Linked DNA regions of Homo sapiens. The protein of the gene in region 1 interacts with the protein of each later gene in a biochemical or structural test. Each region holds a gene or a part of one and is shown in the gene's direction. Other genes may lie near its edges. The genes, in order: CD47 and SIRPG.

What was found.
Region 2: the proteins of CD47 (region 1) and SIRPG form a complex in vitro, tested with the Homo sapiens proteins (one large-scale study listed by IntAct).

Annotation. Positions count from the first base shown.
Region 1 is NC_000003.12:108,088,161-108,092,632, reverse strand, and holds the start of CD47 (leukocyte surface antigen CD47 isoform 1 precursor), read left to right. Parts: upstream 1-1,601; 5' UTR 1,602-1,724; coding exon 1,725-1,770; intron 1,771-4,472. UniProt on the Homo sapiens protein: Adhesive protein that mediates cell-to-cell interactions. Acts as a receptor for thrombospondin THBS1 and as modulator of integrin signaling through the activation of heterotrimeric G proteins.
Region 2 is NC_000020.11:1,651,074-1,654,888, reverse strand, and holds part of SIRPG (signal-regulatory protein gamma isoform 1 precursor), read left to right. Parts: intron 1-3,815. UniProt on the Homo sapiens protein: Probable immunoglobulin-like cell surface receptor. On binding with CD47, mediates cell-cell adhesion. Engagement on T-cells by CD47 on antigen-presenting cells results in enhanced antigen-specific T-cell proliferation and costimulates T-cell activation.

The DNA of each region.
Region 1 (4,472 bases):
AAGGCTGCCATTCAAATCATTACCACCATAATTATTAACCATTGTTTTAGTGAGATGTCTGCCAGGCAATTGTTTTTATTTTTCAATCATTAAAAAAGCAATCAAATTTCACTAGAGCAATGCCTGCCTCACGCCGCATCAACACATTTATTAAACCCCTTCTGTTTGCCGAGCTCAATGGAAAGTCTTGGAGGAGGGAATACTTAAAATGCTCTCGGATTTAAAAGAATTGATAATGCTGTGGGGAAGAGGTTCACACAAAAAAGCAATTACAGGAAGAAGCTCGATAGTATACAATACACTGGTACAGAGTGTCATAGACAGTGCCACTTTCATACGCTGGATTTTATTTCTGTGGCAATGGGATGCTTGGGAGGAGCCGCACTGTGTAGAGGATTTGGAGAAGTGGGGTATTGTGGTGGGAAATTGCTTTCTTTCCCAGGAGGTAGGAGGAAAACAATCAAGGAGGTGGACAGGATGTGCACTCCATTAGAGCAGCCACCAGAGCCTGACTTTTTGATAAGAGAGTACATCAGTTAGGATAACGGTTAAAAGTATCTTTAAAAGACTTTTGCTTCAGGATGAATGATGTGGCCTGTGTGATTCAGCGATAAATTCAAAAGCCTTGTCCCTATTGTGGCTTGCGGCCACATTTCGAACCCATTTTTCAAGCATGTTAAACCCAAGCGCAGCGCAGAGGGCTGCACATGGGGCAGTCACAAACCAAGCTCAATAACCTTGCTGGTGGGGATGTGTTGGATACGCTGCTAATGCCTGTTTGCGACAATGCTCGCTAGTCCCGGTGGTGGCGGTGTTCACAGGTAACAATGTTTACCACCGTGAATGGAACTTGTTTGATTAACCCTGATCAGAGGATGAAAACACTAAAGAACCAAGTGAGAAAGAGGGAAGAGAACCGCATAGGGAAGAGCAGAGCGAGTAGACGAGCCGAACGCAGAGCCCGCGAGGGGCGAGTGGAAGCTCCCTGCGGGCAGGTACCCGACCACCGCCCTGCCCTGGGCGTGGCGGCCTCGGGCTCAGGGACCGCTTCGGCGCTAGACGGCCGCGTCCGGAGGAAACGGGCGCTGGTGAAAGCCTAGGTGTCCTGGTCCACGCGCGCAGCCGGACGTCGGGTCCAGGGAGAGACGCGGGCTGGGGCGGGACGGGACCCGGCCCCTGAAGCGCGAGGGTGGGAGTGAAAGCAAAGAGGAGAAAAGTAGAGAGAGAGGACAGTGGGGCCCAGCGCCGCGCGAAAGGCAGGAACCGACCCGCGGACAGGAACGGGTGCAATGAGGTCCCCGGCGAGCGTGGGAACACAGGGTTCAGCCTCCTGCGGCGGGCGAGCACGCGGACCCCAGGGGCGGGCGGGTGCGACAGGACGTGACCTGGAAGCGCGGCGCGTGCCACCGCCCTGGAGCAGGCATCCGGCCTCCGTGGAGCGGGCAGGCGGGCCCCGGGTCTGGAGCCTGCGACTGGGGAGGGCGCCGCGTCAACAGCAGCGGTTGCGGGGCGGGGCCGAGTGCGCGTGCGCGGCTCTCGCGGGCGGGGAGCAGGCGGGGGAGCGGGCGGGAAGCAGTGGGAGCGCGCGTGCGCGCGGCCGTGCAGCCTGGGCAGTGGGTCCTGCCTGTGACGCGCGGCGGCGGTCGGTCCTGCCTGTAACGGCGGCGGCGGCTGCTGCTCCGGACACCTGCGGCGGCGGCGGCGACCCCGCGGCGGGCGCGGAGATGTGGCCCCTGGTAGCGGCGCTGTTGCTGGGCTCGGCGTGCTGCGGTGAGTGGCTCCTCGCTCCCAGCCCTGCGGCTGCTGTCGCTTCGCCCCCGCGGGCGTGTGGGCTGCGCCCCAGCCAGCCCGGCGGCGCCCTGAAGAGGGTGGCCGGGGCGCAGAACACTCGGGCCCTGAGCGCCCGAAGTGCAGACGTGGGAGGGCCCCACGGGGAATCGGGCGCCCCCCTTCTTCCTCCCTTCCTTTCCCTGGTCGTCTTCTTCCCCCTGGGTGAGAGCGGGGCTCATCTCCTCCACCCGGTTCTCCATCTCCAAATGCACACACACAGGAAGACTCCAAACCGCGCACCTCGCGCAAAAATTAACTAGCAAGAAAGGGCGCGATCAGAGGCAAGGGGCTGCAGCTGCTAGGGATCCCCTTCTTTCGCACCCCTCTCCCTTCTCAGTGCTTAGACGCATTTGGGGTTGAGGGAGGGAGAGTGGGAGGGCCCGGGCCTCTTGCGATGGAAGTGCGCATTTTGGCGAAGTCGGTGAGAAGGGGTTTCTGCCGTTTGCCTCCCACATGAACATAGGAGCGAAGAGGACGTAAAGGACACAATTAAGTTTCATTTTCAACTCAGCATTCAATCAGAAGAATCTTCCGGCCGTGTAATTTTTGCTGTCGTTTTTAATCCTAAAAATAAGCTTGCTGGAAACTCTTCCTTTCTCGTGACCCTCACGCCCCATCAGCCACTTGCATACATTCTAAATTGTACGTTGAAGTTTTTCCCACTTTATTTGGGGGAACCGTTTTAAAAGTAATCTGGTTTTCGCCTGAAATAGGAAGACAGTAACCTCCAGTCAAAACATGTGCAGCAGAATGGGATTTGGTGTTTTTCGACGCCAAAGAACCTCCACCCCCCCACCCCCACCCCGAGCTTTTGGAATCCATTTCGCTTTTGTAAAACGTGTGCTTCGTCTGTAAAAACTGAGCAAGGAATAGAAACATTCGTAGCTCTACAGTGAGTGCCTGTCACACTTCACATCCATAGAGCCTTTTGTGAACTTTTATAAGATTCAGAATTCAGCTTGAGCACCAGTGACAGCAATTGTTACATTTATTCTAGAATGCTAAATTAATTCGATTTTAAACTGATTATTAGCCTCGGTGTGCCGTTCCTAAAGGCTTGTGACTTTAGGTATTTCCAAGATGCCCTTAAGTCTCTGCTTACCACTTTCCTCCCTCCCCGAGCATCCTGGATGTTGGGACTGTGAATCCAGGTCTCCGTTATCTAAATGGTTGATGTTAGTGTTTCCTGTCATCACGTTTAGTATGCTTGTTGCCTTTACTATCATTATAGCTAAAATAATACTGCTTTCAGAGATGTGTTGTATAATCGCATAATAATTTCAGAACGCCTTCATATTGAACCAGATATGAAGTGATACAGTATCATTTATTCAAACTGCCTAAAAAGTAAAAAGTATAAACCATATACTATTTTTAAAACAGGTAGGTTAGATTTAAATCACGTAGTTTAGAACTGTTGGAATGGTACTTTGAGTGATAGGATTTATGTTAGGCCTTCTTTAGTAATAGTTAATATCATGTAATTAGCACTCGTTTACACACAATTTTAATGTGTTCGAATCCCTAGAGTCATCGAATTCAGAATTTATAGTATTTTATTTTACTTAGTTAATATTAACCTAAAAAAAAAGCAAAATACAGGCATTATGCAGTTGAGTTGTGTTAAGTGTGGACTGTAAAACAGGATAGTATTTGTTATAAAATATGTTTTTGTATGTGTTTAATATATAGCTTCAAAAGGACATGTATGAAGAAAGATGTCTCAGCACATAGGTAGTTATAAACCAAGGGTTTGAGAGACTGACTTTAGAATCTAGAATGAGTAAGAAAGTGATGGATCTGTACATTCATTTGTATTGAAGTTTGATTTTGCTTTCAGTTTCGTTAATTAAGCCCCGGGAATCAGGGACCTTTCCTGGCACCCTCTACAGTGTTAGTGGCCTTTGTGGTAAAAGAAGTTATCTCAGATACTCATTTCATGCAATTACAGGCAAACTGGAAGGCACCTTAATGGTATGCAAGATGTGAAATGAATTACTATGTTGCATTCCACTCTGCCCCCACTCATGTACAATTATACTTTGTTTAAAAGTGCATAGTTTCAGTGGTATTTATTAGCTAGCAAATAAAACTTTAAATAAATAATGATGGTGTTGTGAACTGTCTTTTCAGTGGTTGAATGATTCCTCTTTGTTCAAAATGAGTTGTTTTTTTTTTTAAATCAGGGTACATATGATTAAATAAAATTTTTTTCCATCGTCTAAGTCTAGTAGTAATTTGGCTTGTTTAAATAAAAATGTTTTCTCTTAAAGAATATATTATTTTTAATTACAAGTTGCCATTTTAAGGAAGTAAATGCCTATTTAAAAGTACGTATTTATGGGGCCGCCCCAGCAGTCTAGAGGCAGTGTTTTTTAAAGCATTACACTAAATGCCTACCATTAGGACACTTGCTCATGCTGTCATCTGTGTTTTGGCAGATGTTTTATCTTTGTCACTGAGTTGTTCATGGAGATTTGAAAGGCCAAGTTCTAAAGATGAGAGATAGATGACTTTCCCCCCAAATTGATACATATTCTAAATCCAAAATAATCACGCATATTCGCAAAACTAGATTTGCATTTCATAGTATGAATTCAGCTATAGCTAGTATATAGGCATTGCTTTTAATATAGTAATGT
Region 2 (3,815 bases), on another chromosome or scaffold:
GAAATGTCTATTCGGATCTTTGGCCCATATTTTAATAGGGTTGTTTTCTTATGGTTGAGTTGTTTGACTTCCTTATATATTTTGTATACTGACTCCTTATCAGATGTATGGTTTGCAAATGTTTTCTTCCATTCTATAGGTTGTCTCTTCACTCTGTTGATTGTTTCCTTGGCTGGGTAGAAGCTTTTTTAGTTTGTTGTTAATGCCTTTTGTCTATTTTTGCTTTTGTTGCCTGTGCTTTGGGGCTCAAATCCAAAAATGTATTGCCAAGACCAATGTCATGAAACTTTTCTTCTAGTTCTTGTACAGTTTCAGATCTTACATTTAAATCTTTAATCCATTTTGAGTTGATTTTTGTATGAGGCATGAGAAGAAGGCCTAATTTCATTCCCCTACACATGGATATCCAACTTTCCCAGCACCACTTTTTGAAGAGACAGACCTTTCACCATTGTGTTTTCTTCACACTTTTGTCAATAGTCAATTGAGTGTGAATGTGTGAGTTTATTGCTGGGCTCTCTGCTCTGATCCATTGGTCTATATATCTCTTTTTATGCCAGTGCCATGCCATTTTGATTACTTTGACACTGTAGTCAATGTTGAAATTAGGCAGTGTGGTGCTTCCATCTTTGTTCTTTTTTTTTTTTTTTTTAGATGCAGTCTTGCTCTGTCGCCAGTCTGGAGTGCAGTGGTGTGATCTCAGCTCACTGCAATCTCCACCTCCCGGGTTCAAGTGATTCCCCTGCCTCAGCCTCCCAAGTAGCTGGGACTACAGGTGTGCACCACCATGCCTGGCTAATTTTTTGTATTTTCAGTAGAGACAAGGTTTTACCATGTTGGCCAAGACGGTCTCGATTGCCTAACCTCGTGATCTGCTCGCTTCGGCCTCCCAAAGTGCTGGGATTACAGGCATGAGCCACCATGCCCGGCCCCATCTTTGTTCTTTTTGCTCAAGATTGCCTTGATGTAGCATATCACATTTGGAGATTTATGAATGTTATACCATCCTTGCATTCCTGAGATAAATCTCATGTGACCATGCTGAAACACACACAGAATTTTAAAGACTTTCTTTACTGTAAACTTCAACTCATTTTTTCAGTCTATATGAAATGCACATTGAAGAGATGTGTGGTTTTCCCTATTGCCCAGCCACTCTCCCTCCTTCCTACTTCTCTAATCTTACCACTGAAAGTCCTCCAATCTGTTAATAGAAGCAACAGATAAGCAAACTTCTCTCTTGGTAAAATGCATTTTCCCTCAAAGCAGAATTTCTGTGCATTTTTATCCTGAAATTCCCTCTTCCATGAAGGTAGAAATGAGGAAAAAAATGTGGGGATACAGGTGACACAGGTCTGCCTATATTACCTATAACTATAGTTATATTTATATCCATATCCATACCCTTATCCTTATCCTTGTCATCTAATGTCCACTGAAGCCTCCAAGCCTCAGAAATCTACTGAGCAATAACTTTACAATTTTTGAACGTTCACCATGTGGCAGACACTGTTGAAAATGCCTTACCTCTTTTACTTCATGTGATCATTATATACAAGGTAGATATTCTTGTCACCTTTCCTAACAGATAAGAAAACAGAAGCACAAAGTGCTCCAGGCTCACTCATTGGTAACTGGTAGAGCTACGATTTGAACTCAGGCACTCTGACTCTAGAGGTCACAGGTTTCACCATTACTCAAACACTTCCGGTCTTGATTCTATTCCATGAGATTTCTGCAGCTGCTGCTCTTGGGTGTGGAGTGGGCAATGTGGTGTGAAGGGAGATTGTGGTTTTCTTCTCTGGGCTCTTCTACTTTCTGTATGTTTGCAAACTGATTTTTTTTCACTAAGTCCTCTACATGGGAAACTCATTTTCTGTCAAATTCCACAGGAGCAAACCACCTAAAATAGAAGATTTCAGTCTTCGAGGGAAATGTCCCACTGAGCAATTCAAACATTACACACATATCTATTGGATACCTACTATGTGCCAGGATCTGACATAAAAACATGGGGTACTTTGGTAGAATAAAAGAGAAAAAGTAATTGCCCTTTTGTTGCTTACATCCACTGCAGAGAAAGACAGTAATCAATACACATGATAAATAGGTGAATGAAAAAATTAATTTTTGACAATGATAAGTGCAATAAAAATAAAGTATGAGTAGGTGAATGTTATCATCTTGTGAAAGTATTCATATATCCTTTTTATTGTTTTCATCGTAAATAGATGTACAAATTTACCAGATGCTTTTCTGCATCAAAATAGATGATCATGTGTTTTTTCTATTTATTCTATAAATAAATATTTGTAGAATACCATATTGTTTGTCTGTCATTTGTATATTGAAACATACTCATATTCCAGGAATAAATACCACTTGTTCATGGTTTATAATCCTTCTTACATGCTGTTCAATTCAGTTAGCTAGTATTTGGTTGAGGATTGTTGCATCAACAAATCCAGTAGTAATAAGGCCACTGTCAACAGAAAGGTGTGCAGCTGCACCTGACAAATTTTAATTTTGTGTTTCAGTAGAAGTTTAAGTTCCAGTGGGACCCATTTCAGATGAGCAGGGACTGGCCTGTGAGACAACCAGTGGTTAATGCTTGCAACAGGAAATATTCCCCCTAGATCTGGACCACAAGCCAGTAGATTCTAGTAGATAACCAGTCATTTTTTGTTAGAATGAAGTAAAGAACAAGGCAGAGAGGGGCTTTTTTGTTTTGTTTTATTTTTTGTTTTGCGTTAGAAGCCCTGGGGAAGTTTATGACCATCAGGAGTGGTCTAGAAATTCCAAGAGGAATGAAAATCATTGCCAAAGTCTCTAGAGAGAAGAGGTATTTTTGTTTGTTTGAAAGCACTAAAAGGAGTGCCTGTTGATTTTAATTTGCAAGTAAAATTTGTAAATGTAGAATACATTGCCACTGGCACCTCAAAACAACTCAGAGATGCTGGATTATGTGATATTATTATAAGTATCACATGAGTCTTCTTTGAAGAGGTTGCTATAACATCCTGTGCTCTTGAAGAAAGGCAGCTGTCATTATTGATATTGGAATAGGATACACATTTTAGGATAGAGAGTCTTGGCAGCACTCCAAAAGGCAACACATAGCTGTGCATAGCACAACACAAGAAAGGCATCAGGGCAAAAAAAAAACCTTCTCAAATTGTGGAGCCAATCAGTAGCAAATCCGTAAGCCATGAACAGTCAAAGTGCATCTCCTAGGAATTTGCTACCCCGGTTTAGAATAATCCCCTCCTCATTGCCATTAGTGTTGAAAATGGTAGAGTAAGTCCTGCAGGTTGTGTCTTAAAGGATCACTCTAACCTGGTCATGAGAATTTCATCTGGAGAGGCATAGCTGGGTAGGGCATGCCACACAGGAAGCCATATGGGAGGAGCTCCCAGGGAGTAGGCTCAACCAAGCAGATGGGGAAGCAAGAGAGATGAGAGATGAGAAGCCATTGCCTTTAATGGGAGTCAGGGTGGAGGACACCAAGAAAAAGCATGATGGGTTTTACTAGAACGTTTCAGTGTCACTAAGTCACAGAAGAGGAGGACAAGAAGAGGAATTATGGCAGGGACCAGCTTTATCACAGTGGTGTACCTGGTTTGGCAGGGTGCTCACAACTTGTTTGTGGGATGTGGAGGTATCAGGTAAATATGATTTTTTAAAAAAAATTTACATATAACTGGACATCTTTATTTCTTCATATAACTTTGAGTTGCCATATGGCATCATTTCATTTCCACCTGAAGCACTCCCTTTAGCATTTCCTGTAAGCAAGCCTTTGTGGTCATGAACTA